4 linked regions of the Homo sapiens genome follow. The protein of the gene in region 1 interacts with the protein of each later gene in a biochemical or structural test. Each region holds a gene or a part of one and is shown in the gene's direction. Other genes may lie near its edges.

The links.
Region 2: the proteins of NHLRC1 (region 1) and UBE2H form a complex in vitro, tested with the Homo sapiens proteins (one study listed by BioGRID).
Region 3: of the proteins of NHLRC1 (region 1) and DVL2, one has a biochemical effect on the other in vitro, tested with the Homo sapiens proteins (one study listed by BioGRID).
Region 4: the proteins of NHLRC1 (region 1) and EPM2A form a complex in vitro, tested with the Homo sapiens proteins (3 studies listed by BioGRID, with this or other methods).

What each region holds. Positions count from the first base shown.
Region 1 is NC_000006.12:18,119,916-18,127,604, reverse strand, and holds NHLRC1 (E3 ubiquitin-protein ligase NHLRC1), read left to right. Parts: upstream 1-4,927; 5' UTR 4,928-4,998; coding exon 4,999-6,186; 3' UTR 6,187-7,165; downstream 7,166-7,689. UniProt on the Homo sapiens protein: E3 ubiquitin-protein ligase. Together with the phosphatase EPM2A/laforin, appears to be involved in the clearance of toxic polyglucosan and protein aggregates via multiple pathways.
Region 2 is NC_000007.14:129,942,938-129,949,961, reverse strand, and holds part of UBE2H (ubiquitin-conjugating enzyme E2 H), read left to right. Parts: intron 1-7,024. UniProt on the Homo sapiens protein: Accepts ubiquitin from the E1 complex and catalyzes its covalent attachment to other proteins. E2 ubiquitin conjugating enzyme that transfers ubiquitin to MAEA, a core component of the CTLH E3 ubiquitin-protein ligase complex.
Region 3 is NC_000017.11:7,224,842-7,231,541, reverse strand, and holds the end of DVL2 (segment polarity protein dishevelled homolog DVL-2), read left to right. Parts: intron 1-347; exon of another isoform or gene 348-661; intron 662-744; coding exon 745-814; intron 815-1,111; coding exon 1,112-1,257; intron 1,258-1,386; coding exon 1,387-1,496; intron 1,497-1,598; coding exon 1,599-1,734; intron 1,735-1,863; coding exon 1,864-1,954; exon of another isoform or gene 1,955-1,992; intron 1,993-2,094; coding exon 2,095-2,164; intron 2,165-2,267; coding exon 2,268-2,407; intron 2,408-2,496; coding exon 2,497-2,573; intron 2,574-3,497; coding exon 3,498-3,565; intron 3,566-3,758; coding exon 3,759-3,887; intron 3,888-4,006; coding exon 4,007-4,138; intron 4,139-4,272; coding exon 4,273-4,452; intron 4,453-4,583; coding exon of another isoform or gene 4,584-4,612; exon of another isoform or gene 4,613-4,655; intron 4,656-4,902; coding exon 4,903-5,121; intron 5,122-5,228; coding exon 5,229-5,677; 3' UTR 5,678-6,200; downstream 6,201-6,700. Other genes in the region: ACADVL (very long-chain specific acyl-CoA dehydrogenase, mitochondrial), read right to left, coding at 6,445-6,585, 6,658-6,700.
Region 4 is NC_000006.12:145,634,513-145,641,536, reverse strand, and holds part of EPM2A (laforin), read left to right. Parts: intron 1-6,050; coding exon 6,051-6,292; coding exon of another isoform or gene 6,293-6,378; exon of another isoform or gene 6,379-6,457; intron 6,458-7,024. UniProt on the Homo sapiens protein: Plays an important role in preventing glycogen hyperphosphorylation and the formation of insoluble aggregates, via its activity as glycogen phosphatase, and by promoting the ubiquitination of proteins involved in glycogen metabolism via its interaction with the E3 ubiquitin ligase NHLRC1/malin.

The sequences.
Region 1 (7,689 bases):
CTCACTATGTTGCCCAGCACGATCTCAAACTCCTGGCCTCAAGTGATCCCCCCACCTCAGCCTCCCAAAGAGCTGCTCAGCCTACACCTACTCTTTCTGAAAGGTGTTTCAGAGAAAGATTTCTACTGAGTGCTTTTTAAAAAATCAGTTATTGGCCGGGCACAGTGGCTCATGCCTGTAACCCCAGCACTCTGGGAGGCCGAGGTGGGCGGATCACCTGAGGTCGGGCATTCGAGACCAGCCTGGCCAACACGGTGAAACCCTGTCTTTACTAAAAATACAAAAAATTAGCCGGGCATGGTTGGCACATGTCTGTAATCCCAGCTACTCGGGAGGCTGAGTCAGGAGAATTGCTTGAACCCAGGAGGTGGAGGTTGTGGTGAGCCGAGATCAAGCCATTGCACTCCAGCCTGGGCAACGAGCAAAACTGTCTCAAAACAAAAACAACAACAACAAAATTAAAATTAAAAATTATCATCTTTAATCCCTACAGCTCTGACTTTCCAATCACTTCTTATGTGATGTGCTTTTTGCCTTATAAAACATTATATGACAAATTCACCAGTGGCTGGTGGGAATTGGACAGAATTCTATTTATGTGCCTTAAGCATAGTCATTCCGATTTGCAGAAAATAGTCATGTCCCAGATTTATTACTTATGTGTAGCTGTAATTTGTGAGCTGAAAATATGCTTGAAAATCTGTGATTCCTGAACAGTGGGTATTAATAGAAATTTATTTCACTATTGGTGTTAACTTTCGACAACAGGAGGATAATCGAGGCAGATATTTAGAAATGAAATATATCATAAAATATTAAGTTATTTATATTTAAATATGACAAATAATCCTTTATGCATTGAAAATTTGGGAAGTCTAAAAAGAAAAAGAAAAGCAATCAAGTCCTATCACTGGAGATAATTACTGCTATGATGGTGATGTATTTTCTTCTCATCTTTTTTGTCTGCTCATACATGTGAATGTTTTCACAAGGTTGTTGTGATCACATTACGATACAGTATTGTATCTCCACTATCTTTCTTTCTATTTCATTCACCCTTCCTGGAGTTGAGGCAGGAGAATAGGGTCTTGAGGCAGGGAACCTAAGGCTGATTCATGCTGACTTCCTAGAACTAAATTGAAAGGAAAACCTCAACTTTCCATGCCTAAGTAACAAAAGGACCAGAGGCTACTCCCTTTGTAACCTCCACCACCCCACCGCCCCTAGCCTTTTCTGCGTGGCAGAAACATCTGCAACCAATCAAACGTTTGCATAGGAGTGTAACTTTTGTAACTTCACTTCGGCCTCTCATTGGTTGCAGCAAGCAAAAGCAACCAATCAGACTGATTGCGGGCCACTACTTTATTTGCATGGGATGAATACCAAGTGGCCAGTGGGAAACCTCTAGGCAGTATTTGGACCCCAGAAGATTCTGTAACCAGGGCCCTTGAGCCACTGCTCAGCCAGGTCCCACCCTGTGGAGCACTTTCATTTTCAATAAATCTCTGCTTTTGTTACTTCATTCTTTCTCTGCTTTGCTGTGCATTTTGTCCAATTCTTTGTTCAAAAAGCCAAGAACCTGGACAACTTGTAGTCAAACCTTCTACTGGTAACAGTGTCACTAAATATTTTTCAAAAGCAAGATTTTTAAATAGCTGTATAATGTTGTAATGTGGCAGTACAATTATTATTTAGTCTTTCTCCTGCTATTAGAGTCAGCATTCATTCAGCAATTTAAGTACTATTGGGTGTGCTAGCAGATAAAGGTTTATTGATTATTGAAGATAATCCTTTTCTCAGGCATCACAGGTTGTAGGGGTAGGGACTGAACATTGAACTTCATATGGTATGGCTGTCTTAGGGGTACAGGCAGGGAGCTGTCAGCTTATAACTGGTCATTTAAACCACGAGGAAGTGAAGATGGCATTGCTCAGGGAAACAGGTAGGAAGCTAAGAGAAAAAGACTGAAGGTGGCACCCTGAGGAACACTCAATTGCATTGAACTTGAGATGCACTCAAATCTCTAGATCCCCATTTCCAAACATACATCTCCACTCATTTTTGTATGGACTTACTCAAAAAATTCAAAAACAGCCATTCTTCCTCTTGCCACCACATCCCTCACCCCTGAGATGCCAAGAACATGGAGCTTAAAAATTAGAGTGGTGGTCAGAGACGCCCCTGGGAGGAGGGCAAGGCTGGAAGCAAAGCCCATTCTGTGTGGCTTGTTCATCTTCCTTTCCCTTACATCATTGTCAGGTAGTCTGAGTTGTAATTGGATCATTAAACTTGTTCTGGGATTCCTTCTAAACTGCATGTGTCTGGCACATTTGCCCCACCTGCACAACCAGGAGCCCACCTGTCTAAGCACTGACTCCCCCTAACTCATGCTCCCCCTGTGCTCTCTTCTCTGCTGGAACCATCCTGAGCTGGGTCCCCACTCTCCTTCCACTATAGTATGGTACTTTTTCATAGGGCAGCCATTGACCACTTTGGAAACTAGACGTTCTGCTCTTCAAGCCCTTTGCCCCCACAACTCTCAGGGCTTGTTCTAGGTGGAAGCAGGAAAAGATGGGCATGCTAGTCCAGGACCCTCTATAGAAGGAATATCGGAGGGAAGCACAGGGTAAATCCATGGAGGCCCAGCCATGGAGGAGGAAATGATAGTCATAGGAAATGCCAAATGTCAGAGTGAGATTCAAGACATATTTGTTATTAATCAATTATGCAATGGTGTGATTGCATAAATAATGTGATTTTAGTTGGTTGTTTATTTGGGATGGAAATGTAGTCAGAAATTATTAAGTTGGTTATTGTGTCCCAGTACGCAATCTTTGAGTCAAATGACATTTGATTAGAAAATGTTCTTTCTTGTCTTACATTAAAGCTCTTTCCAGGGGCCTCAACAGGGGATAAAATATTGTGTTTTCTCAGAAATCTAGCAAATCAGAAGGTGAATGTTCATGATTATGATCTCTAAAGGAAAAGAAATTCTCTAATACAAGGTTTTGTTAAGCACAATGTTCACATAAGACATTTGAGGGAGAACCCCTTAAAAATAAGAGTTTAGGGCCAGGCACGGTGGCTCATGCCTGTAATCCTAGCACTTTGGGAGGCTGACGCGAAAGGTCAGAAGTTTGAGACCAGCCTGGCCAACATGGTGAAACCTCATCTCTACTAAAAATACAAAACTTAGCCAGGCATGGTCACGGGTGCCTGTAATCCCAGCTACTCAGGAGGCTGAGGTGGGAGAACCGCCTGAACCCAGGAGGTGGAGGCTGCAGTGAGCCGAGATCGCGCCACTGCACTCCAGCCTGGTGACAGAGCAAGACTCTGTCTCAAAAAGAAAAAAAAAAAAAAGAAAGAAAAAGAAAAATGAGAGATTATAATACCACAATGGATTCTTCACACAGATTATGCTATCCCTTGTTTGAAGATTTTCCAACATATGGCAAATTCTCTTTGTTTTTGGTCTTAACTGAGATTGGAAAAACTGAACTTAGTGTCATTTGAGGGAATTATTATAATGCAGTGTTTCTCAAACTTGGCTGTACATTATAATCACCTGGGGAGCTTTTATAAATCCCAGCTGTCCAGACCACACCATGGGCCAATTAAACTTTTCGGGTGCGACCCAGGTGTTTACCATGTGCAAAGAAGTTTGAAAATGACTAAAATAGGTAACTCTGAAGTCAAACTGCCTGGCTTCAAATTCCAGGCCAGCCACTTCCTAGCCATGTGACCCTGGGCAAGATATTTGATTTCTATGAATTCTATCAGAAAAAAAGACAATAAAAATAACATATTTTTGTAGGATTGCTATGAGGTTTAAACAAGATAATCTATGTAAATTATTTATTAATTTGCTGCAAAAGTAATCACGGTTTTGCCATTAAAAGTGATGGCAAACACTGCGAATCCTTTTCACCAACCTAACACAATGGGGCAGGCATATGTGAATTCCATAGGCTGGGCACAGTGGCTCACACCAGCACTTTGGGAGGCCAAGGGGTGGGGAGGAATGTGAACAATTTTCACAAGTTCAAGACCAGCCTAGGCAACATAGTGAGACCTCCTCTCTACAAAAAAATTAAAAAATTAGCCTAGTGTGATGGTGCATGCCTGTAGTCCCAGCTACTGAAGTGGGAGGATTGCTTGAGCCTGGGAGATGGAGGCTGCAGTGAGCTGTGATCGTGCCCCTGCACTCCAGCCTGGGTGACAGAGTGAGACTTTGTCTTAAAAAACAAAAAAATGAAGTTCTATGGTAATTATTATTAACTAACAGCTTTCTTATTTCATATTAATTACTCTGCAAGACACTTCCAGCATGGTTGCCCCATCTGACACTCATTCACCTCGTTGATTTTTTTTTGTTGTTGTTGTTGTTCTATAACATTCATTCATGCACAAATTCATTTTACAAGTATGTATTCATCTAACATTGACTTAACTATGAGTATGACAGAAGACACAAAAGAAATGTACACATCTGCCTCACCTCCCTTGGAGTTTATCTTCTCTAGTGTGTTCGTGTTTTCCGGTTCAGATCATAAGCATCATGAGCTAAGGGACCATGTTTTATGCCCGGACAGCCGTAGCACCCGGCGCTGCGGATTGGAGACACTGCTAGGCACCCGGGCTGGAAGATTGGGTTCTAGTTCTTGTTTTGCCGCTTACAGGCTGGGTGACAGGGAGCAATCCTGTTGTCCTCAATAGGTGTGTTTCCTCATCTGAAAGTGTACACAATCCATCCATGACTGCTGTGACGATTACAGGTCTACACAACGCGCATGTGGATTTGTCTTGCAAACGTCCACCATCAGGCCCTCAGGAAACAGTGCCGCGCGTGCCCACCAAGGGGCAGCAGATCGCAGTGCAGAGGCCCGCGGCGCTCGACGTCAGGGCGCACGTCCCACCCCGTGACCATGACTGTGACCGTGACCGAGAGCGTCGCTGGGGCACGGCCAGGCGGCGCGGCGGGAGTGCACAGGACGCGCCATGGCGGCCGAAGCCTCGGAGAGCGGGCCAGCGCTGCATGAGCTCATGCGCGAGGCGGAGATCAGCCTGCTCGAGTGCAAGGTGTGCTTTGAGAAGTTTGGCCACCGGCAGCAGCGGCGCCCGCGCAACCTGTCCTGCGGCCACGTGGTCTGCCTGGCCTGCGTGGCCGCCCTGGCGCACCCGCGCACTCTGGCCCTCGAGTGCCCATTCTGCAGGCGAGCTTGCCGGGGCTGCGACACCAGCGACTGCCTGCCGGTGCTGCACCTCATAGAGCTCCTGGGCTCAGCGCTTCGCCAGTCCCCGGCCGCCCATCGCGCCGCCCCCAGCGCCCCCGGAGCCCTCACCTGCCACCACACCTTCGGCGGCTGGGGGACCCTGGTCAACCCCACCGGACTGGCGCTTTGTCCCAAGACGGGGCGTGTCGTGGTGGTGCACGACGGCAGGAGGCGTGTCAAGATTTTTGACTCAGGGGGAGGATGCGCGCATCAGTTTGGAGAGAAGGGGGACGCTGCCCAAGACATTAGGTACCCTGTGGATGTCACCATCACCAACGACTGCCATGTGGTTGTCACTGACGCCGGCGATCGCTCCATCAAAGTGTTTGATTTTTTTGGCCAGATCAAGCTTGTCATTGGAGGCCAATTCTCCTTACCTTGGGGTGTGGAGACCACCCCTCAGAATGGGATTGTGGTAACTGATGCGGAGGCAGGGTCCCTGCACCTCCTGGACGTCGACTTCGCGGAAGGGGTCCTTCGGAGAACTGAAAGGTTGCAAGCTCATCTGTGCAATCCCCGAGGGGTGGCAGTGTCTTGGCTCACCGGGGCCATTGCGGTCCTGGAGCACCCCCTGGCCCTGGGGACTGGGGTTTGCAGCACCAGGGTGAAAGTGTTTAGCTCAAGTATGCAGCTTGTCGGCCAAGTGGATACCTTTGGGCTGAGCCTCTACTTTCCCTCCAAAATAACTGCCTCCGCTGTGACCTTTGATCACCAGGGAAATGTGATTGTTGCAGATACATCTGGTCCAGCTATCCTTTGCTTAGGAAAACCTGAGGAGTTTCCAGTACCGAAGCCCATGGTCACTCATGGTCTTTCGCATCCTGTGGCTCTTACCTTCACCAAGGAGAATTCTCTTCTTGTGCTGGACACAGCATCTCATTCTATAAAAGTCTATAAAGTTGACTGGGGGTGATGGGCTGGGGTGGGTCCCTGGAATCAGAAGCACTAGTGCTGCCATTAATGAATTGTTTAACCCTGGATAAGTCACTTAAACTCATCTATCCAGGCAGGGATAATTAAAACCATCTGGCAGACTTACAAAGCTTGGGACAGTTATTGGAGATTAATCTACCATTTATTGAATGCATACTCTGTGCAAGGAAATTTGCAAATATTAGCTTATTTAATCTGTACTATCCAGTGAGGTAATTTCTTCCCCCCCAAGATAGAGTCAAGCTCTGTCACCCAGGCTGGAGTGCAGAAGCATGATCACAGCTCACTACAGTTTCAACGTCCCCCGCTCAGGTGGTCCTTCCACCTCAGCCTCCCAAGTAGCTGGGACCACAAGTGTGCATTACCACACTCAGCTAATTTTTGTATTTTGGCAGAGATGGGGTTTCACCATGTTGCCCAGGCTGGTCTCAAACTCCTGAGTTCAAGCAATCCACCTTCCTCGGCCTCCCAAAGTACTAGGAGTACAGGCATAGCCACTTGCTCAGCCATAATTTTTATTATTAATCTCATTGTACAAGTGAGAAAACTGAGACCCAGAGAGCTTAAGTGACTTCCTCGAGGTCATAGTTACTTACTGCCTTAGTCCCAATTTGAATTCAATTCTGATTCCAAATAAGTTGCGCTTAAATAAGACAACAGATGTGGGAAAAATATGTGAATGTGTAGTGTTGCTATGTGTACTGTCTTTACAAGTAGCTAATTATTTTAGCACAAAGATGTGCAAAGAAAGGAGACTTTATGGAGAGTTCAGGAGAAAAAGGATTTTGTGGTGGCCATCACTTTCATTCAATTTGCGACTGCTCTGATGGCACATTAGATGAAGTTACTGTTGATCCTGAGTTACGTGAATAAGAAAAACAATTGAACTGCTTATTAAAAAAGTAAACATGTCTTTTAACGCCTATATCTTCTCCACTATACAAACTCAGAAAATACCACTTGGTTGTTTGAGAAAGGCCTATATTTGTGTAAGTTCTAAACTATTGCAGAACACACTACATACTAGCGTCAAAGGGCTGATGACGCTCCTGTTACATGTTTATGGGGTTTTTTCGTTTGTTTGTTTGCTTTTAGACATGGTCTTGCTCTGTTGCCCAGGCTGGAGTGCAGTGGATTGATCACTGCTCACTGCAGCCTCGACTCCCTGGGCTCAAGCGATCCTCCTGCGTCAGCATCCTGAGTAGCTGGGACTACAGGTGTGTCACCATGCCCAGCTAATTTTTAAATTTTTCGTAGGGATGGGATCTTGTTTTTGTTGCCCAAACTGGTTTCAAGCTCCTGGGCTCAAGAGAGCCTCCTGCCTTGGCCTCCCAAAGCATTGGGACTATAGGTATGAGCCACTGTGCCTCGCCCACGTAAAGTAAAAGCGAGAGCCTAACTCCCATGCCAGTCCACAAAAACCCATTTTCTTGTCAATGCTCTCATCATATAGCACTAATAGTAAGATTTGGGGCACCCTAGA
Region 2 (7,024 bases), on another chromosome or scaffold:
TGGAGAGGAAGTAGGAAGAAAAGGTCTGAAGGAATGCACTTCTTGCCCCCCATGCCCCTTGATGATTTCTTTGGTGTGGGGGGCGATAGCTGGTTTCCTTGCAGTCTCCTGTTTCAGCCCATTTTTGGATGTCTCCTGAGCGTAATTATACCACCACGATTTACAGCCTGGCAGGGAACCTATATAGTAGGAAAGTAGCAGTGTGGGGGTAGGGAGAGAAGAGGATGTGTAACTAATTGGCCGCTGCCTTCCACCACCTCGCTCGGTTCTTTTGGAGACACCGTCTCTGGTTGTTGTTTGGAGTCAGTGATATTTCTTTTGTGACGGGTTGGTAGGAGAGCTGACTCCCAAGTTATGCAGGGAGTGAGTGTTTTGCACCAATGCACTTAATAATCTGCTGGGTGATTATGTTCTGAAACTCTGACTCATTCATTGTTTCTCTTCTGATCCTTTGCTAAGGGTTGTGCAAACCTCCCCAGGAGCCTAGAAACTGATTTACATGACTTTTGGATCCTTTAGGAATGTGTCCCAGTAAAAAAACCTTGCAGTTAGCCCAGATCCTATGGAATAGTCTCGAATAGTGCGGCCATTTGTTTGCAAAGTCAGGTAGATTGGTGATCTGTGCTGCCCAGAGCCTGGCAACCTTTGAGGTTTCCACCTCCAACCAGCTGATTATTTAGATTGTCTGAGAGCTGGGGCTCTGGTGACCTTAAAGCGTGATTTGCCCTAAAGGAATATCGGTTTAAGTTCTCCCTGGTGGAGGAACAAACAGCTCAGATTACACGGGTTTCCTTGTTGGTGGGGGTTACTCGTCTCACCCTGTTGCACAGCCCTGGTGATCCTTTCATCTGTGAACCAGTGGCCCCTGCTGAAGGCTAGAGCTGCTTGTTTTGGAAAAGCGTATGCAGGCAAAAGGCCGCAGGCACCGCTCCTCAGCGCTCATTGGCCGCCCTGTTACTACCCGGAAAAGGAGGAGGGGAGGAGCTACCAAACAGCTGATGGAGTATGTGACAAGAGAGTGTGTTTATATACAAAAGAGGTGGGGGCTGGGGAGGCCCTCTGAGTGGTGTTACAGGAACAAGTGTGTTTTCGAGGGGTAAAAAGAGAAGAGGAAAACCTGACCTGTTAGAGTACAAGAAATGTTTAGAAAAATTAAGGTTAAATCAGAAAAGTAGATCGGATAATAATGGGGACCGGCATACACCATATGTACAATTTTGTAACTTACAATACCAAGAGTTTTCAATGATTCTTCTTTTCAGAGGGAGTTCAGTAATAGGATCCCCCCCTTATTTATTTTTACATTTTTTGTAGAGACCGAGGTCTGACTAGGTTACCAGGCTGGCCTCCCAACTCCTGGCCTCAAATCTTCCTCCTGCCTTGGCCTCCCAGAGTGCTGGAATTACAGGTGTGAGCCCAGTGCACCTGGCCCAGGGCATGCCACTTTAAATGCACTTAACTGACTCATTTGCAGGGATTCCAAAGTATGGCAGAAATGTCAGCTTCCCTTAAGAAAGCGTCAAGTGTGATAGAAAGGGACGGTGTCTTACATTAAAACGGCCTGAGTTAATTTTACAGAATCGTTGGTGTCTGCTTTAGGGTTTCAGAAGCTTTCTCTAACAAATTCAAAACCTCAGATGTGGCCAAGTGTGGTGGCTCACACCTGTAATCCCAGCATTTTGGGAGGCTGAGGCGGGAGGATCACCTAAGTGTAGGAGTTTGAGGGTCCAGTGAGCTAAGATCATGCCACTGCACTCATGCCTGGGCAACAGAGCAAGACTCTCTTAATTAAAAAAAAAAAAAAGCTGGCACAGTGGCTTATGCCTGTAATCCCAGCACTTTGGGAGGCCAAGGCGGGCAGATCACCTGAGGTCAGGAGTTCGGGACAAGCCTGGCCAACATGGCAAAACCCCGTATGTACTTGTACTAAAAATATAAAAAATTAGCCAGGCGTGATGGTGCGGGCTTGTAGTCCCAGCTACTTGGGAGGCTGAGTCACGAGAATAGCTTGAACCCATGAGGCGGAGGTTGTGGTGAGCCTAAATTACACCATTGCACTCCAGCCTGGACGACAGAGCAAGACTCTTATCTCAAAAAAAAAAAATCCTCATATGTTTGGGTACTTGCTTTGTGCCAGCATTGTGCTGGGAGTTTAGTAGTGAAAAATTCAGTATGGGTGGTCATGGTGCTTATGCAATTAGTTAAAACTTTTTTAGTCGGAAAGGACAGGCTGTGTTAGGTCATTGCTGTGTGTAGTGCCTTTTTGAGTAACTTGTATTTACTTAGAGTGGACTTTTCAAGGAATAGAAAGGTTAAAATGAATTTTGTGTGCTAGGATGTATATGGGGATCTGTACACCTGTTTAAAAAAATTTCAAAACTAAAATATTAAAATATGTAGCCATTTGTCTTTGACTTAACTTTGGTATTTTGCTGTTAATCAGTAGTTACTCTATCCCTAAGTTAGTAGTCTTTGTTACTCTTTAATTTGTGTTCAAAGGGTAGACAGTTCCCTAAATCTTTTAACTAGTTCTAGTGTCAATTGGGAACCTGTGGTTTGCCTCTTTATTTCCAGTGGACTCTGTTTTAGTGAGATGATGAGATGAAAGTTGGCACAGCTTTATGGTCTTCAAGCTAAAAGTTAAAGATTTGGCAACTCTCAGTGTTCTGAATTTGTCTTCCCTGCCTAGATTTTGGTGACAAATATAACATACTGGTACTTATTTTGGTTAGGCAGGAACCTACATGAGTAAGCATTCACAGCTTCAGAACATCTGATTCCTGCAGTGCAGTTCTAGTAAATTACACGCAAGCCTAAAAATTCAGCTTTTTGGGAAAAAATGTTTCGCAGATGTGACCCATAAACGTCCCTCCTGTATTTGTGTATGTATGTTAGAACAACCTAAGTTTGTTGGTTTTCTAGTGTTGCAATTTTCTTAGCCCCTTGACCTGCATTTTATAGATATATTTAAACATTGGTATTCTTTTCAGTCTTAACAGATTTGATGGTTCCAAGAATCATTGGATTTTTAGGCATGTAATCCAGACCTTACATTACGTTATAATGTTTGCAACGTAATAGCTTTTTACCTGTAGACCTACAGAGTGTACCTGTTAGTAAAATACTTAAAAGAACTTAGTTGGATTTCAAAAGTAAAAAGATAATTGAGAAAAACATAGGTTACAAGAAGGAAAACCAGTCACCTGTAATCCTAGTTCTTTAAACAGTAGTTCTCAAACTTTAGTTTGAGATTGCACCACTGCACTCCAGCCCGGGGGACAGAGCAAGATTCCATCTCAAAAAACAAAAAACAAATAATCACCTGGAGAGTTTGTTAAAACAGGTTACTGCATACCACTCCTGGAGTTTTCTAATTCATTGGGTCTAGGGTGGGGTCTAAGAAGTTCGCAGATGATGCTTCTGGTCCAGGACCACTGTTTAAGAACTGTTGGCCTTAAATGTTAACCTTATGGCTTTTTTCCTATATCTTTTATTCTCCCCAGGATGTATTGTTTTCAACCTGTTGATCATACTGTATGTGTCTGCCCTGTTTTTGCTTAATATTTTTGCAACTGTTTTTCCCAGTTAAAAATAATGACTAGGGGCCGGGCGCGGTGGCTCACGCCTGTAATCCCAACACTTTGGGAGGTTGAGGCAGACAAATCATGAGGTCAGGAGATTGAGACCATCCTGGCTAACATGGTAAAAACCCATCTCTACTAAAAATACAAAAAAAAAAAAATTAGCCGGGCGTGGTGGCGGGCGCCTGTAGTCCCAGCTACTCAGGAGGCTGAGGCAGGAGAATGGTGTGAACCCGGGAGGCGGAGCTTGCAGTGAGCAGAGATAGCGCCACTGTGCTCCAGCCTGGGCCACAGAGTGAGACTTCGTCTCAAAAAAAAAAAAATAATAATGACTAGGCTGGGCACAGTGGCTCATGCCTATACATCCAGCACTTTGGGAGGCTGAGGTGGGCAGATCACCTGAGGTCAGGAGTTTGAGACCTGCTTGACTAACGTGAAGAAACCCCATCTCTACTAAAAAATACAAAATTAGCTGGGCGTGGTGGCGCATGCCTGTAATCCCAGCTACTTGGGAGGTTGAGGCAGGAGAATCAATTCGCTTGAACCTGGGAGGTGGAGGTTGCGGTGAGCTGAGATTGCGCCATTGCACTCCAGCCTAGGCAACAAGAGCGAAACTCAGTCTCAAAAAAAAAAAAAGTAGCTCATGTAATATGCCATCCCATGGCTGTGCCATTGATTTAATTCTTTGCCATTTTTCTCTGATGAATAAGATTGAAATTAACATCTTTGTGCATAGGCTTTTCTTTGGGTTATTTCTGTTTTCCCGAAATGGGATTCTAGATCAAAGAAGGTAAACATTTGAATTAAAATATTTAATTAAAAATCTCAGAGCCCTACACTCAGCGGGCTCTTGTTTTGTTGTGTTGTGTTTTAGTTGGTATCGTTTTGGCACTGAAATAGCCTGGCATAGTGATTAAAGATGAATTCTAATTTCCTCATTGTTTAAACTTTGATGTTTTTTGTGATAATGGTGATCCTCAATTTAGGCATAATTTTGTATTCTCAGAGTGCATACTGCAAGTCGGTAGGTTAAATATATTTATGAGCAGATAGATCTAACAGGAACTGTAGAATTAGTTTTGGCATCTTGGATTCTTTTTTGTTATTGAGGTATAATTGACATACAGTTAACTGTACATATTTAAAGTGATACTTTTGATAAGTTTTAATTTTATGTATCACCCATGAAGCTTATCCTTATCAAGAGAGGAGACATATTTATCTTCCCCCAAAGTTTCTTGTGGCCCTTTGTAATCTTTCCCTCCCTCCCTTCCAACCATTGATCTCATTTCTGTCACTGTAGATTATTTTACATTTTCTAGAATTGTATATATAAGCGGAATCATTCAGTACATACTCTTTTTGTGTGGGTTCTTTCACTTATAATTCTGAGATTCACCCATGTTATTTAGTTCATTTTTTTTTTATTGCTGAGTAGTATTCTATTATGTGGATATACCACAATTTGTTTATGCATTCACCTCTTAATGCTTGGTGGCATTTGGGTTATTTCCAGTTTTGGGCTATTACCAGTAAAGTTGCTATGAACATTGTATGGATATACGCTTTTTTTTCTCTTGGCTAAGCTAGATCATGTGGTAGGGTTTGCGCATGCGCGTGCGTGCGTGCGTGTGTGTGTGTGTGTGTGTGTGTGTGTGTGTGTGTTTTGAGCGCATGCGCACGTGTGTGTTTTGAGACAGGATTTCACTCTGTTGCCCAGATGAGAGTTCATGGTGTGATCTCAGCTCACTGCAGTCGTGGCCACTTGCCTGGCTAATTTTATTTTTTTTGTAGAGATGAGGTCTCACTGTTGGCCAGGCTGGTCTCAAATTCCTGGGCTTAAGTGATCCTCTGGCCTTGGCCTCCCAAAGTGCTGGGATTACAGATGTAAGCCGCTGTGCCCAGCCATGTTTAACACGTAGTTTGAATTTAATGTTTACTGATGATGGTCCATATTTCACACCCAAATAAAATTGTGACAACGGTTGTTTCACTTGTGTGTTTTGTTTTGTTTTGTTTTGTTTTGAGACGGAGTCTTCGCTCTGTCGCCCAGGCTGAGTGTAGTGGCGCGATCTCGGCTCACTGCCAGCTCCGCCTCCTGGGTTCACGCCATTCTCCTGCCTCGGCCTCCTGAGTAGCTGGAACTACAGGCACCCGCCACCAAGCCTGGCTAATTTTTTGTATTTTTAGTAGCGACAGGGTTTCACCATGTTAGCGAGGATGGTCTTGATCTCCTGACCTCATGATCTGCCCACCGTGGCCTCCCAAAGTGCTGGGATTACAGGCATGAGCCACAGCGCCTGGCCTCACTTGTGTATTTTAAAGGAATCATGTTAAATTACATGCTCTTAAAGCACTGATTTATTTTTTATTATTAACCTTATTTTATAGTATATGAATTTTGTTAATTTTTTTATCAATAAAACAAATTTTACCACAATGATTGTGATACCTTTCACTTGAATAATGATTTAAACACTTTATCTTCCTTTTTTAAAGACAGAATCAGTCTCGCTCTGTCGCCCAGACTGGCTCTCTGCAACCTCTGCCTCCTGAGTTCAAGCGATTCTCCTGCCTCACCCTCCCGAGTAGCTGGGATTACAGGGGCCTGCCACCACACCCAGCTAATTTTTGTATTTTTAGTTAGAGACAGGGTTTTGCCATGTTGGCCAGGTTGGTCTTGAACTCTTGACCTCAGGTGATCCGCCTGCCTCTGCCTCTCAAGTACTGGGATTACAGGTGTGAGCCACGATGCCTGGCCAATCTGGTTTTTTGTTTGTTTTTGTGTTTGTGTTTTTAGACGGAGTCTGGCTGTGTTGCCCAGGCTAGAGTGCAGTGGTGCGATTTCAACTCACTGCAACCTCTGCCTCCCGGCGCTTGGCCTAAAGCATTGATTTCTAGCTGAATTTGGTTAAAGCTGATTTGGTAGCTACTCTTCTCTCCCCACCCCCATTTGAAATTAGTAAATTAAATTTTTATTGTGAAATATTTTTGTTAGCCTGAGCTACATGGCAAAAGCCTATTTCTACCAAAACAGATAAAAAATTAGCCAGGTATGGTGGCATGCACTTGTAATCCCAGCTACTCTGGGGGCTGAGGCAGAAGGATCACTTAAGCCCAGGAGGCAGAGGTTGTGGTGAGTTAAGATCATGCCACTGCAGTCCAGCCTGGGTGACAGGGCAAGGCCCTGTCTAAAAAAAATGTTTTGTGGCCCTTTGAAATTACACTTTAGGAATCTGGCCGGCCATAGTGGCTCATGCCTGTAATCCTGGCACTTTGGGAGGCTGAGGTGGGCAGATCACCTGAGGTCAAGAGTTCAAGACCAACCTGGCCAACATGGCGAAACCCCATCTCTACTAAAAATGCAAAAACTAGCTGGGTGTGGTGGTGCACACCTGTAATCCCAGCTACTCAGGAGGCTGAGGCAGGAGAATTGCTTGAAC
Region 3 (6,700 bases), on another chromosome or scaffold:
GAAATGAATTAGAGAAAACTAAAGGAAAGTATAAGAGTAGAGGCTTTGATGAGGACCAAAGCCTTTTTTGGAAGGTTTTTTTTTTTTTTTTTTTTGAGCCGCCCAGGCTGGAATGCAGTGGCGCGATCTCGACTTACTGCAACCACTGTCTCCCGGGTTCAAGCGACTCTCCCATCTCAGCCTCCTGAGTAGCTGGGATTATAGACACCCACCATCATGCCCGGCTAATTTTTGTATTTTAGTAGAGATGGGGTTTCACCATGCTGGCCAGGCTGGTCTTGAACTCCTGACCTCAGGTGATCCGCCCGCCTCAGCCTCCCAAAGTGCTGGGATTACAGGTGTGAGCCACCGTGCCTGACCTTTTTGGAAGGTTTGTAAGGAACAGGGGTGGGGTTGAGAGGAGGCCACCAGCCAGTCTCATTAGATAGGTATCTCAGGCAGCCGCATCAGCGTGCGGGATTGCTTTTGAAACTGGACTAAGAGGTTTGAGTCAGACTCAAGGAAGTCTTTGGAGCAGCACTGTGCCCCTGAGGGTGCGTTAGGGAGAGGAGAAATAAGGAAAGGGGATTGAGTTTGGAGATTTCTTAGGTGTCGGAGTGAGTTCTTTCAATGTAAGAGAAGACCTGAACAGGGCAGGAGAAAGTCAACATCCTGGAGCCAGGTGAAGATTGGGAGAAAGTTTGATGGGGGTCGGGGTGGGGATGGTTGGTCCAGCTCACTGACCTCTACCTTGTCGCTTGGCAGGGTGGTGAAGGAAGAAATTTCAGATGACAACGCCCGCCTCCCCTGCTTCAACGGAAGGGTGGTATCCTGGGTAAGAGGTTCTGACACCGAGGACCAGGCCCCCTCAGCATTGCCAAGCTCCCTCAAGCCTCAGTCTGTTTCTGTATCCTCCCCAGGCCGCGCGTTAGCAGCCCTGGCTCTTTACCTCCTGTCTGTTTGGAGAGCCGGCGAGAGGCCCTCAGCCTTCTCCTTCTGGAGTCTCTAATACTTGCTAGGTTTTTTTGCTCTTCTCCAGCTCTCTGAGACCCTTTCTCATTCTTTCACTTACTGCCACCTGTCACACCCTGACTCCCAAGTGAGCCACTGTTTATCATTTGCACCCTTCTAGCTGGTGTCCTCAGATAATCCCCAACCCGAGATGGCCCCTCCAGTCCATGAGCCTCGGGCAGAACTGGCGCCTCCAGCCCCACCTTTACCTCCTTTGCCACCCGAGAGGACCAGCGGCATTGGGGACTCAAGGCCTCCATCCTTCCAGTGAGTCCTTCAGATTCTTGACTGCAGGGGAGGGAGGTGAGGAGGGAACCCAGGCCTTTGGTAGGGGACGCCTAGGATCCGGAGCCCTGTTCTCCTGATGTGGGTTGGAAACCATCTCTGCCTGTCCAGCCCTAATGTGTCCAGCAGCCATGAGAATCTGGAGCCTGAGACAGAAACCGAGTCAGTAGTGTCACTGAGGCGGGAGCGGCCTCGCAGGAGAGACAGCAGTGAGCATGGCGGTGAGGGGCAGGCCTGGGGGCCGGGAAGGGCTGGGCCAGACCCCAGCCTTGGTGGGGTGAGCAGGGGGAAGCTTGGTTCTTGAGCTTCCTGTCCATATGTAGCTGGGGGCCACAGGACTGGTGGCCCCTCAAGGCTGGAGCGCCACCTGGCCGGATACGAGAGCTCCTCTACCCTCATGACCAGCGAGCTGGAGAGTACCAGCCTGGGGGACTCGGACGAGGAGGACACCATGAGCAGGTGTGGCTCCGCACAGCTCTCCCCAGCGCACCCAGCCCCGTCTCGTCTTCCAGTCAATCCTCTTGTTCTTTCTCTTGGCCCCATGACCACTTTGGCCTACGTTTGCTCTCCTTCCCAACCTCCTGGTAGGTTCAGCAGCTCCACGGAGCAGAGCAGTGCCTCCCGCCTCCTTAAGCGCCACCGGCGGCGAAGGAAGCAGAGGCCACCCCGCCTGGAGAGGGTGAGGGGTTCCTACAGGAAGGCTGGTGCTGGGAGAAGGTGGGGCATGGGCTTTGGTTTGGGCGGTGCCAGGACACCGGCAGCACCCCAGGGTTGACCCTGGGTTATTGAAGGGCACTCTGGCTCCTTTTCCCACCACAGACGTCATCCTTCAGCAGCGTCACAGATTCCACAATGTCTCTCAATATCATCACAGTCACGCTAAACATGGGTATGGGGAGAGCCTGTGGCTAGGGCGTGGGGAGGGCCTGGTCTCTAGGGTTCCGGGCGTCCTGTGGCAGGGGCTCCTCTTTTCACATGGCCTCTCTCCACAGAGAAGTACAACTTCCTGGGTATCTCCATTGTTGGCCAGAGCAATGAGCGGGGAGACGGAGGCATCTACATTGGCTCCATCATGAAGGGTGGGGCTGTGGCGGCCGACGGGCGCATTGAGCCAGGGGACATGCTTTTGCAGGTGTGCTGGGGTAGGGCCACTGAGCTGCCCTGCACGGGGGCCCTCAGCCTCTCCCACCGTGTCTCTGACCCACTTGCCGTCGCTTCCAGGTGAATGACATGAACTTTGAGAACATGAGCAACGATGACGCTGTGCGGGTGCTGAGGGACATTGTGCACAAGCCTGGGTGAGTTGCCAAGCAGGTTGCCGGTCCTCAGTCCTCTTTTTTTTTCTCTTTCATGTTTTGTTTTGGAATTTTAATAAGTACTAAGACAGCCGGGCGTGGTGGCTCGAGCCTGTAAACCCAGCACTTTGGGAGGCCCAGATGGGTGGATCACCTGAGGTGAGGAGTTCGAGACCAGCCTGACCAATGTGGTGAAACCGTGTCTCTACTAAAAATAGAAAAATTAAGTGGGCATGGTGGCACATGCCTGTAGTCCCAGCTAGTGAGGTGGCTGAGACAGGAGAATCACTTGAACCCTGGGGGGTGGAGGTTGCAGTGAAACGAGATCACGCCACTGCACTCCAGCCTGGGCGACAGAGCAAGACTCCGTCTCAAAAAAAAAAAAAAGTGCTAAGACATAACGTTCAAAGTACATGAAACAAATGCATGACATAGCAAATAATACTAGAGTAAATATCCATGTCACTGCCATCTAGATCATCAAATAGGAGATTGCTGATACCCTAGAACTTCCTCCTCAGATGTCCCTTCCTGCTCCCAAATGCCTCACTGCCCCAGGGGTAGTCACTCTCCTGACTTCTTTGGCCATCACCATAACAAAGAAAAGCTTTGCCTCACTGGATAGTTACCACCCTTGCACGTATCCTTGAACACTGCAGTTTCGTTTTACCTGTTTTTGGACTTTCTGTGAATGGAACTGTACAGCGTGTACTCTCTTGTCTCACTTGGCAGTATGTTTTTAAGAGTTTTCCATGTTGATGAGTCATCCACATTGTGGTGCCTTCCACCCTCACCTTCTCTAGCCCAGCCGCGATGTGCTTGCTTCTCCCCCTCTTTGTGTCTCTTAATCCATCCTTGCTTCAGACCCCCGCCCTCCTGAGGCCTCCTCTTCCCCTGCGCCCTTGACTGGACTTCTCTTCCCCATAGCCCCATTGTGCTGACTGTGGCCAAGTGCTGGGATCCCTCTCCTCAGGCCTATTTCACTCTCCCCCGAAGTGAGTGACACTCAGGGAGGGGCCTGAAGTTGGGGGTGGGGGCTGCCCAGGAGGCTGGGGCCGGGCCTGTGGTCATGGGGAATGGGTGGGAGGAGGGTCCAGGCAGAGGTGGAACAGGAGGCTGAGTCAGGGAGGGACTGGGCTGGCTTTTGGGGACTGAGAATGGGTCATTTTGGTGCCATCTTTGTCCCAGATGAGCCCATCCAGCCAATTGACCCTGCTGCCTGGGTGTCCCATTCCGCGGCTCTGACTGGCACCTTCCCAGCCTATCCAGGTTCCTCCTCCATGAGCACCATTACATCTGGATCGTCTTTGCCTGATGGTGAGCCGCCAGCCCACCTCATCCCACCCTCCCAGCAGAAGGCTGTCCCGCAGTGGTCTGATCCATTGCCCTTGTGGGAGCGATCCCTGACTCTGGTTACCCGTTGTCTCCTCTGCCAGGCTGTGAAGGCCGGGGTCTCTCCGTCCATACGGACATGGCATCGGTGACCAAGGCCATGGCAGCTCCAGAGTCTGGACTGGAAGTCCGGGACCGCATGTGGCTCAAGATCACCATCCCTAATGCCTTTCTGGGTATGGCTGGGTCCTGGGCAGGTGGCTGGAGAAGGGGAGGAGGTGGTGACCAAAGCCAGGAATGGCACAGGCAGAGGCGAGAGCAGGAGTTGGAAGAAGAACCTGAGGCCTTTTTCCACTGTGGGTGCTCCCAGGCTCGGATGTGGTTGACTGGCTCTACCATCACGTGGAGGGCTTTCCTGAGCGGCGGGAGGCCCGCAAGTATGCCAGCGGGCTGCTCAAAGCAGGCCTGATCCGACACACCGTCAACAAGATCACCTTCTCTGAGCAGTGCTATTACGTCTTCGGAGACCTCAGTGGTGGCTGTGAGAGCTGTAAGTCCCCCTGCCCCAACTCTGGGAGTGTGGCTTTGCCTACCTTGTTCTGCCTCTCCAACCCTAGACCTAGCCCAGAAACCGCAGCCAGGGCCACCATGGATGGTCGAGCAGTGTGTGTCCCGCACTAGGTCCTGCACTGGCCGAGGATGGGGGCTGACGTCCACCCATGTGCTGCTGGACAAGCCATGTGCCAGGTGCAGGACTGTGTCCACCGGGGGAAGGTGCACCTCTTACCTGAGTCCCGCAAAGACGTGGGCTAGTGGCTGTGCCCCTGCCCTCATGGCAGAAGTAGATGGGAGTTTCTTGTCAGAGACCCTTGTGAACCCCTGTTTTGAGCCCCATCGTGGGTGGGTCTGGGAGAACTGTTCCCAGTTCCTCTCCATTCGGTGTCTTGGGGCCCTAGCCTCTTGAAGCAGTGATTTCTTCCTCTCTTCCCTTGCTTTCCAGACCTAGTCAACCTGTCTCTCAATGACAACGATGGCTCCAGTGGGGCTTCAGACCAGGATACCCTGGCTCCTCTGCCTGGGGCCACCCCCTGGCCCCTGCTGCCCACTTTCTCCTACCAATACCCTGCCCCACACCCCTACAGCCCGCAGCCTCCACCCTACCATGAGCTTTCATCTTACACCTATGGTGGGGGCAGTGCCAGCAGCCAGCATAGTGAGGGTAAGTCATCCCCACATACCTGTACGGCCAGGATCTGAGGGTGGATGAGAGGGGAGCCAGGGAGGAGCCTGGGTGAGGACTCAGTTGCCCCTCCCCTCCCTCCACAGGCAGCCGGAGCAGTGGGTCGACACGGAGTGATGGGGGGGCAGGGCGCACGGGGAGGCCCGAGGAGCGGGCCCCCGAGTCCAAGTCCGGCAGTGGCAGTGAGTCTGAGCCCTCCAGCCGAGGGGGCAGCCTTCGGCGGGGTGGGGAAGCAAGTGGGACTAGCGATGGGGGCCCTCCTCCATCCAGAGGCTCAACTGGGGGTGCCCCTAATCTCCGAGCCCACCCAGGGCTCCATCCCTATGGACCGCCCCCTGGCATGGCCCTCCCCTACAACCCCATGATGGTGGTCATGATGCCCCCACCTCCACCTCCAGTCCCTCCAGCAGTGCAGCCTCCGGGGGCCCCTCCAGTCAGAGACCTGGGCTCTGTGCCCCCAGAACTGACAGCCAGCCGCCAAAGCTTCCACATGGCCATGGGCAATCCCAGCGAGTTCTTTGTGGATGTTATGTAGCCCACTGTGGGGCCAGGCTGGGCCGGGCGCTCCTGGTGTGTGACTGGGTGTCCTGGCCGTCATGTGCTTGCTCTTACAGTGCCTGGGCTCAGCCTACCAGCTGCTGCCATACAGGAGATTGTGGCCACTGTGACTCTCACCAGCAGTGCCTGGTTCCTCCCCCTTCCCTCAGGGGTAGACAAGGGACCTTTGATTATTTTTAGCTTTGTTTTTTTATAAGCCTTTTTGGGGGTTAAAATAGAGTTTCTTACATTTTTGGGACTTTTTTAATAGGCATTTCCTCTTTTATATGAAGAATTCCCATCCATTGGGCCCCTTCTAACCCCAGAATGTGACCTCCTCCTCCAGTTACCCACAGCCCTGCCCTTTGCAGGGTTGGGGGTGGTCAGCGGTACCCCGGGGTTAGGCATCCTAGACAGCAGCCTGAGGAAGCTGGGAGATTTGGGCCATGTAGCTGCCTTTGTTACTCTATTTATTTTAGTCACTTGTATAAAACACCAAATAAAGCAATAGAGGCAAACTCCCCACGCCTCTGGCTCCTTTCTTTGGGAGGGAGGCAGGCAGCAGGGGGAAAGAACCGTCACACAGGAGCAAAGCATGACTGGCTAGAAATTTTTATTATTTGCGAGGCAGTAAGTGCTCTTGAGAGCAGGCACAGTGCTGGGAACACTAGGCCCCTTCGGGACAAACCAGGGCCTTAAGGAAAGGGGCTTCGGCTTTGGCTTGAGGGAAGGCACATAACTGGGACAGGCCCTGGCCGGGAGTATTCAGAAGCCAAGTGGGTTGCTGGTGACCACACCACCCCGCTCCACCAAGGCCTTGGAGATGCTTTTGAAGTTGCGGTAGAGCTCTTGCTGCCAGGGGTCAGACTGCAGGGCGGCCATGCCCTCTCGGATCCGAGCTGCAGCCTGGGGAGAGGGAAGGAGGGGTTGGGCCTGCACCTCCAGCCCTCACCTGAGCTTGGCAGCCCCGAGTCTCACCTCGATACACCAGGTGTCACAGAGCATTTTCTCATGCTGGGCC
Region 4 (7,024 bases), about 130 Mb from region 1:
GCTAAGGCTGCTTTAACAAAGTGCCACAGACAGTGTGGCTTAAACAATAGAAGCTTATTATTTCACAGTTCTGGAGGCTGAAAGTCTGAGATCAAGGTGTCCACAGGGTTGACTCCTTCTGAGGGCTGAGTGGCAGCATCTGTTTGAAGCCATCTTCTCCCTGTATCTTCACATTGTCTTCCCTCTGTGTCTGTGTTGAAACCCCCCTCTTATAAGGACACTAGTCATTTTGGGTCAGTGCTTACTCTGATGACCTCAGTTTAACTTGATCACCTCTGTAGAGACCCTGTCTCCAAATACAGTCACATTCTGAGTTCCTAAGCGTTAGGACTTTAACATAGGAGTTTGGGGAGGGGGACACAAGTCAACATAATAGGCCTTTATAATTAATGATATGGCATTTCATAATATGGAAAATAAAAGAGCATTTTGTCAAAAATTATTTGCTTTCATATGGCTCTAAACTACACAGTACATCCCCAAAATGTAAGAAATGAACTGGACTTACAGAAATTAACTTGTGCTCTATATACATAGTGTATGACTCATAAAAAACTATAATAAAACTATGGTTTAATAAAGAAGCTAATTAGTATCACTTTCTAAATTGGAATTTGTCTTTGAGTAGTTATTCAGCCTTAACTGGAGCCTGTTATAAGCACCCTTTTGGGGTAGAAGTTTGGCATTAATAACTTAACACTGGATGCTAGAGGACAAATTTTCAGCAGAAGGAGCTGTATGTGCTACTGAAGCCTGGAGCTTACTAGAGGTTGATTTTAATGTTTCTCTTGCTTTCCCACTAATGAGATCTAAATTATAGGACGGATAGACTTTTTTTCCCTTTACTCATTATTTAAGAGCCAGTTCATATTTTAATTTCTCATTGAATTGCCCGTAAAATATTAAATAAGATAAATGCAACACAATTATCCAACTTAGGAAATGTGCTTTTTTTTCTTTCCTTTTAAATTCTTAGCTGGGTTTTGTTAAGAGCTTCAGCAAAATCGATTTTCTCTATTTTTTGAAATGGTGCTCCGTTTGTATGGCTAGGAAGAGGGCACTGCAGTTCAACAGTTGGAGTCTTTAGGTGTGATAAATAAACAAAAGCTGGTTCCATTATTCCTGTGGTTTTCCTCATCTTTTTTTCTTTCGATGGACACAAAATAATGCTGATTTTCACCTTTAGGAAAAGGTTATTCTGCCATTTCTCATGGCCATTAGTGATGGAAGCTGTAATGTGAAGTCCATTGAATGGACTTGTCTCCCAATACCTTTTGTCTTTTAGACACCCACTTCTCCTGTCGATACCCTGTGGTGATTTTTACAAAGTGCTTGGATGGTCATTCTGTCTGATGTGCCAGTGAGGCTTCCTTTGACTGACAGTTGAGCGTCTGATTCATACGCTTCAGTAGCTGTTGGACCACAGGCCCAAGCCTGATGGGTGAAACAAATACTGTAGTATTATGATATGGTTACCTGGAACCACAAATCCAGATTCACTCAAATGAGTTAAATTGATTTTGATTTGCAGTCTAAGAAAATAAGGTTCCAGAATGTCAGCCATCTATTCTTTCCCCTGGTCTTTAGCTAAGTTGTAATACTACTAGGGTAGATTTTATTTATGTATAATCTGATTATAGCACAGCAGAAATAGTCAAAACCCTAGTTAATAATTTTTTTTCTACAAAAGTACATTCTTATGCATAGGACTATATTAAATATTTGTCGTGGCTCAGAAGTAGATTTAGTTTTGACCAGTTAGAAGGTACTGTGCATTAAACACATGGATATACATTGTCTCTCATAACAAATAATTTCTCACTCTAGGAATTATTTGTAGTCTTGACACTATTTTTTGGACAAAGATAAGAACTCACCTTAATTTGTAGATATGTCAGACTGAGGAAGCCCATTTTTTCTCATCTCCATATTTTTTACTGATATTTAAAAAAGATATTGGGCTCTATATATTAAGCTTCTCTTACATGCATATGGAGACCTTGGACTGGTGGTCCAAGGTGGTGGTTCTGGAATCTGCTGCTTACACAATCTAGTTAATTTCTAAACAGACCAAAAATCAAAGAACCTACAGAATTATAGGCCTAACTCCCAAGCCTCTCTATAAGTATCTCTGAGATGGATCCTGGTAATAGATGTTTTTATAAAAGTACCTCATGTGACTTGAATGCATAGCCAGGTTTGAAAACTTCTGTCCTGAGCTGACTGAGTGTCAATACCCTGTTGGTTTAGTTGGCGTCTCTTTACCTCCAAATAGTCTATAGTGGAGCTGCCAGAAATCTCTTGAGTTCATGATTGATAGTGGATTATTTATGAAACAAGTCTCTGGAAGTTTTATGATATAACTTATAATTGTAAGCTATAACTTCTATTCCATTATATCTTTGAATTTTGGTATGCCTTGCATTAAAACTACTCTTACAGAGAATTTTTATTCTCTAATCTCATATGTCAACAGGCTTCTTTTCACCCTAAAAATCCTGATGTTAAAAATTGTTTAAAATAACATTGATACCAAAAGAAGACTAAAACTGAGATGAGATGAGTAAAAATGAATTTTTAATGGTATCAAATTATCCTCTTTTGAATGGATGAGTAAAAGTTTAATTACTTTTTAGAAAGCATATCATGTATCTTGTTACCCCCAGTGAATCCTATAACTAGAAATATATCACCTACTTTTGGAAAACAAACTGAAATAGGATGCACATGAAGGGCACTTTAGCTGTCTGATTAAGCAGAATCCATTGATGTGTTTGTTTCCAACAGGCCCAGTCTTTGTCTCTGCATCCCATACAATGATTCAGTACAAATCACTTTATAACCTTACTTTTCTATCTTTCAATATAGTGTTTGTTTTCAGAGTTTATCTTTAGTTATCTGTCTCTAGGTTTAGAACATCTTGTTTTAAAGTAGCAGAAATTAGTTCATACTCATTTCTTAAATATGGACTCTGACTTCCACCATGTCTGGATGTATATTTTAAGGGCTTATTTCCATCAGAAATGTTATGTGTGAGATATATGTGTTAAGCTACTGGCTTTGGGCCTGTTTATCTTTGACTTGTTCTGAGTTTCCCTATCACCTTAAAAACATTTGAAGGCCAGGGCTGAAGGATATGATAGAATAACACCTCTTTTAGCAACAACATGTGACTCTATAGACTGACTCTGATTTGGGATATGCTGACTCTGATTTCTTATATTGCAGGCTCAAATGTCCTAATTTACCCTTTGTGTATCTCTATGAACTATTCTTGAGCTTTTATGCAATCCTGTGTGAAAAATCAGCCAGCCATTTTATTTTGGCATTTACCGACTAGCGAAATACTAACTAGTACCCACTCAAAGAGTGCAATATTCAAGAAAATGCTGAGTGGTATTTGGATTTTAGCTTGCCTGTCATGAAATTCTCTTTAATATTTTACCAGTCCTCTTTAAAATTTTGCCAGTTGAAAAAAACAAACAAACAAATAAAAATTACTGTCTTATAATAGTTTCTATTTCTTGGTTATGTAACGGAAGTGTCCACTTCCCTCTTTTCCAGCTTAGGAGCTTTAGTGTGCTCAGTTGAACCCCAAAGTATACATACGTGAGCCCAGCACTATCACCTCACTAGGCATCCAGCAGGTCCCTGGGTAAGGGATCTTTGAAAGATCTGGAAAGAGGGATGGGACATCTAGTTAGAGGCAGGTCTCACTCAACAGCCAGAGGGAAGGGGCAATCAGCAAGTGGGTGTGACATTTCCCCCGAATACTCAGCTATCCAGGTCCTGATGAAGCTCGGCTCTTGGGCACCCTGCAAGTGTCCTTGCTCAAGGTCTTTCTCTCAGTACACTGGGTCCAGTGGAATATCTAAGAATTATCTGGATCCAGGGATAAGATGAAGGCCTTGGATTTCATGCCTCTCTTTCCATCACCATTAAGTCTTTTGCCATTTCTAACTTTTCTTTTATCATTTTTTTCCCATAATAATCCTCAATAAGGATTTCTGCAAGGAAATTCCTAATAACCCTTTAGACAAGAACACAAGTAGAAAAAAAAAAAAAGTTGTTCTTCTCCTGCAGGGGAAGCAGGGCTCAGGCTTTAGACAGATAGTGCCAGATCTTATGAGATAATTTTCACTGATTATGGGTCATGACCACATTAGAGGATTAGTTAATTGGCTTCTCCTGTTAACATCAACAATGACAACCACCACCAAAAGGAAAAAAGCAAAAAACAAAAAAAGCTAGCTTTCATACAAAAAAATAGGGTATCTTCTACTCTGTAGCATTCAAATGAAGAATATAGGAAACAATGAAGAATTAACTGAATAATCTTTACAATGCAATGCAAAGTAAATTACAAAAATAAGTAAATCACTATAGCTACACATGAAATCCGCTTGCACTTACTGTGCATCCACGGTTTCAGTCCAATTCAGGTACATTAATTGTATTTATTCCTTACAAGATTTTTATGAGTTATTTTTAGACCCATTCTAAAGATGAGTACACCAACAGGTTAGAGTTGATAAATAACTTGGCCTAACATCATACAATTGTTACTAAATGTTATACGAAATCTTTTTTTTTTTTAATTTTTTTTTTTTTTTCAGACAGGTTCTTGCCCCATCGCCCAGGCTGGAGTGCAGTGGTGTGATCTTGGCTCATTGCAACCTCTGTCTCCTGGGTTCAAGCAATTCTTAGGCCTCAGCCTTTCAAGGTAGCTGGGATTACAGGTGTGTGCCACCACGCCCAGCTAATTTTTGTAATTTTACTAGAGACGAGGTTTCTGCCATGTTGGCTGGGCTGGTCTGGAACTTCTGGCCTCAAGCAATCCCCGCCTCAGCCATCCAAAGTGCCAGACTACAGGCGTGAGCCACTGCGCCAGCTTCTTTTTTGGTTTTTACATTTTTCCTTTTGGCTGTTGTTGTCAACATTGTTAACATGAGAAGCCAATTGCCCAGTTCCCTAATGAAGATCCACCACTGTCTTTCTAAAACTTCAGTTCTGCTTACCCTACAGGAGAGAATAAACTTTTTTTTTTTTTAAGAGATGGAGTCTCACTCTGTCACTCAGGCTGAAGTGCAGTGGTGCAGTCTCGGCTCACTGCAACCTCCGCCTCCCGGGTTCAAGCAATTCTTCTGCCTCAGCCTCCCCGGTAGCTGGGATTACAGGTGTCCACCACCACGCCTGGCTAATTTTTGTATTTTTAGTAGAATTGGCCAGGCTTGTCTAGAACTCCTGACTTCAGGTGACCCGCCTGCCTTGGCCTCCCAAAGTCCTGGGATTACAGGTGTGAACCACTGCATCCGGCCAGATAAGCGTGTTTTATGTTTTTTCTCCTTGGGTTCTTGTCTAAAGGGTTATTAAAATTTTTCTGAGTTTTTAACTTTTTCATTTCATTATTTTTTTCTATAATAAACCTCAATGATAATTTCCAAAAGGAAACTATATTGCTATTTCTCCTTCTTACCTTGCAGCATTAGATGAAACCTATAGAACACTGCTAGGTACTAATGGAATTAATGTTGATTCTGATCTTATTAAAAGAAGTCTGTTGTTTTTTAGCTTCTGTTCTTTAGCATATGTTAAAAGTCTCATACTATTTGAAATATTTGCATAGACTTTTAAACCGGAATGCCTGCTGAAATTTGTTTTTCAGAATTTATTTATATAATTACAGGAATTTTCACCTCTAATTTGTTAGCATTTGAAGTCTATTGATGGATTTTTATCATGTGGAACCATATATGCATTCATGGAATAAGTACAACTTGGTAGACTTATTTTAATATATTGCTTGATTTGGTTTGCAAATGTCCATTTCCTGGCGTTCTAGTTAATTGAAATACTTGCTTTCCCCAAAGCAGCAACACCAGTACTTTTTCTTTCAATAATAACATTGGTGTTCATATTCTAAAATATCTAGCTTTTCCTGTGCCAGACTTAAAGGTTAGTTATATTTTAATACTACATGTTTTATGCAGCTCCTTAAACCTCAAATCAGAACAACACTAGTGATAGTTGTCTCCATATGTTCTCATTAGAATTCTACCAAATATCTGGCTGGGTAGCTGCCCTCGTCAGGTGGAACATGTAACCATCAAACTGAAGCATGAATTGGGGATTACAGCTGTAATGAATTTCCAGACTGAATGGGATATTGTACAGAATTCCTCAGGCTGTAACCGCTACCCAGAGCCCATGACTCCAGACACTATGATTAAACTATATAGGGAAGAAGGCTTGGCCTACATCTGGATGCCAACACCAGATATGAGCACCGAAGGTAAGGATCAGAACTGTTCTGCCTCCTTGCTGTATTTCAGAGAAACCCTTGCTGTCTGTCTGTCTATCTATAATTTAATATCTTAAAAATGAATGGTAGAAATGGAATAAATATAAGATTTTAGATTTAATATATATAATACATATGTTTTGACACTGTGGCTAAGATTCTGTTTAATGTGGCTTCTTTGTTTATTCATTCAACACATATTTATTGTGTATGTACTGGGTATGCGGCATTATGCTAGTAGCTAGGAACACAGCAGTAAAGAAAGACAGGCACAACTTCTGCCCCCACGGAGCGCATTGTCCTATAGGGATGGCAAATGTTAATCAAATGACTAAAAATAGAAGTTTAAAACTATGATGAATTTTTTGTTAGAAAATATATAGATATTGCTATGAGATTATGTACAGGTAATCAGGCCAAGAAGTGGGGTCAAAGAGGGTTTTCTTGGAAAGTAGTGTTTGGGCTAAGATCTGAGGGTGGGCTGGAGGAAGAGTGAGTGGAGGGAGTGACCCAGGCAGAAGCAGCAGCTTAGAAGAATCCTTGTGGCAGGAGAGAGCACAGAGTGTTGCAAAAACTGAAAGACCAATGTGGCTTGGATCAGAGAACGAGGAAAGATGATCCTGCAGGATTTGAGCGACAAAAAGGACTTTAGACGCTATCCTATAGCAGGAAGAAGCAGTTGTACAGTAAGACGAGTTCGACACTAATTACAGCACAGAGGGG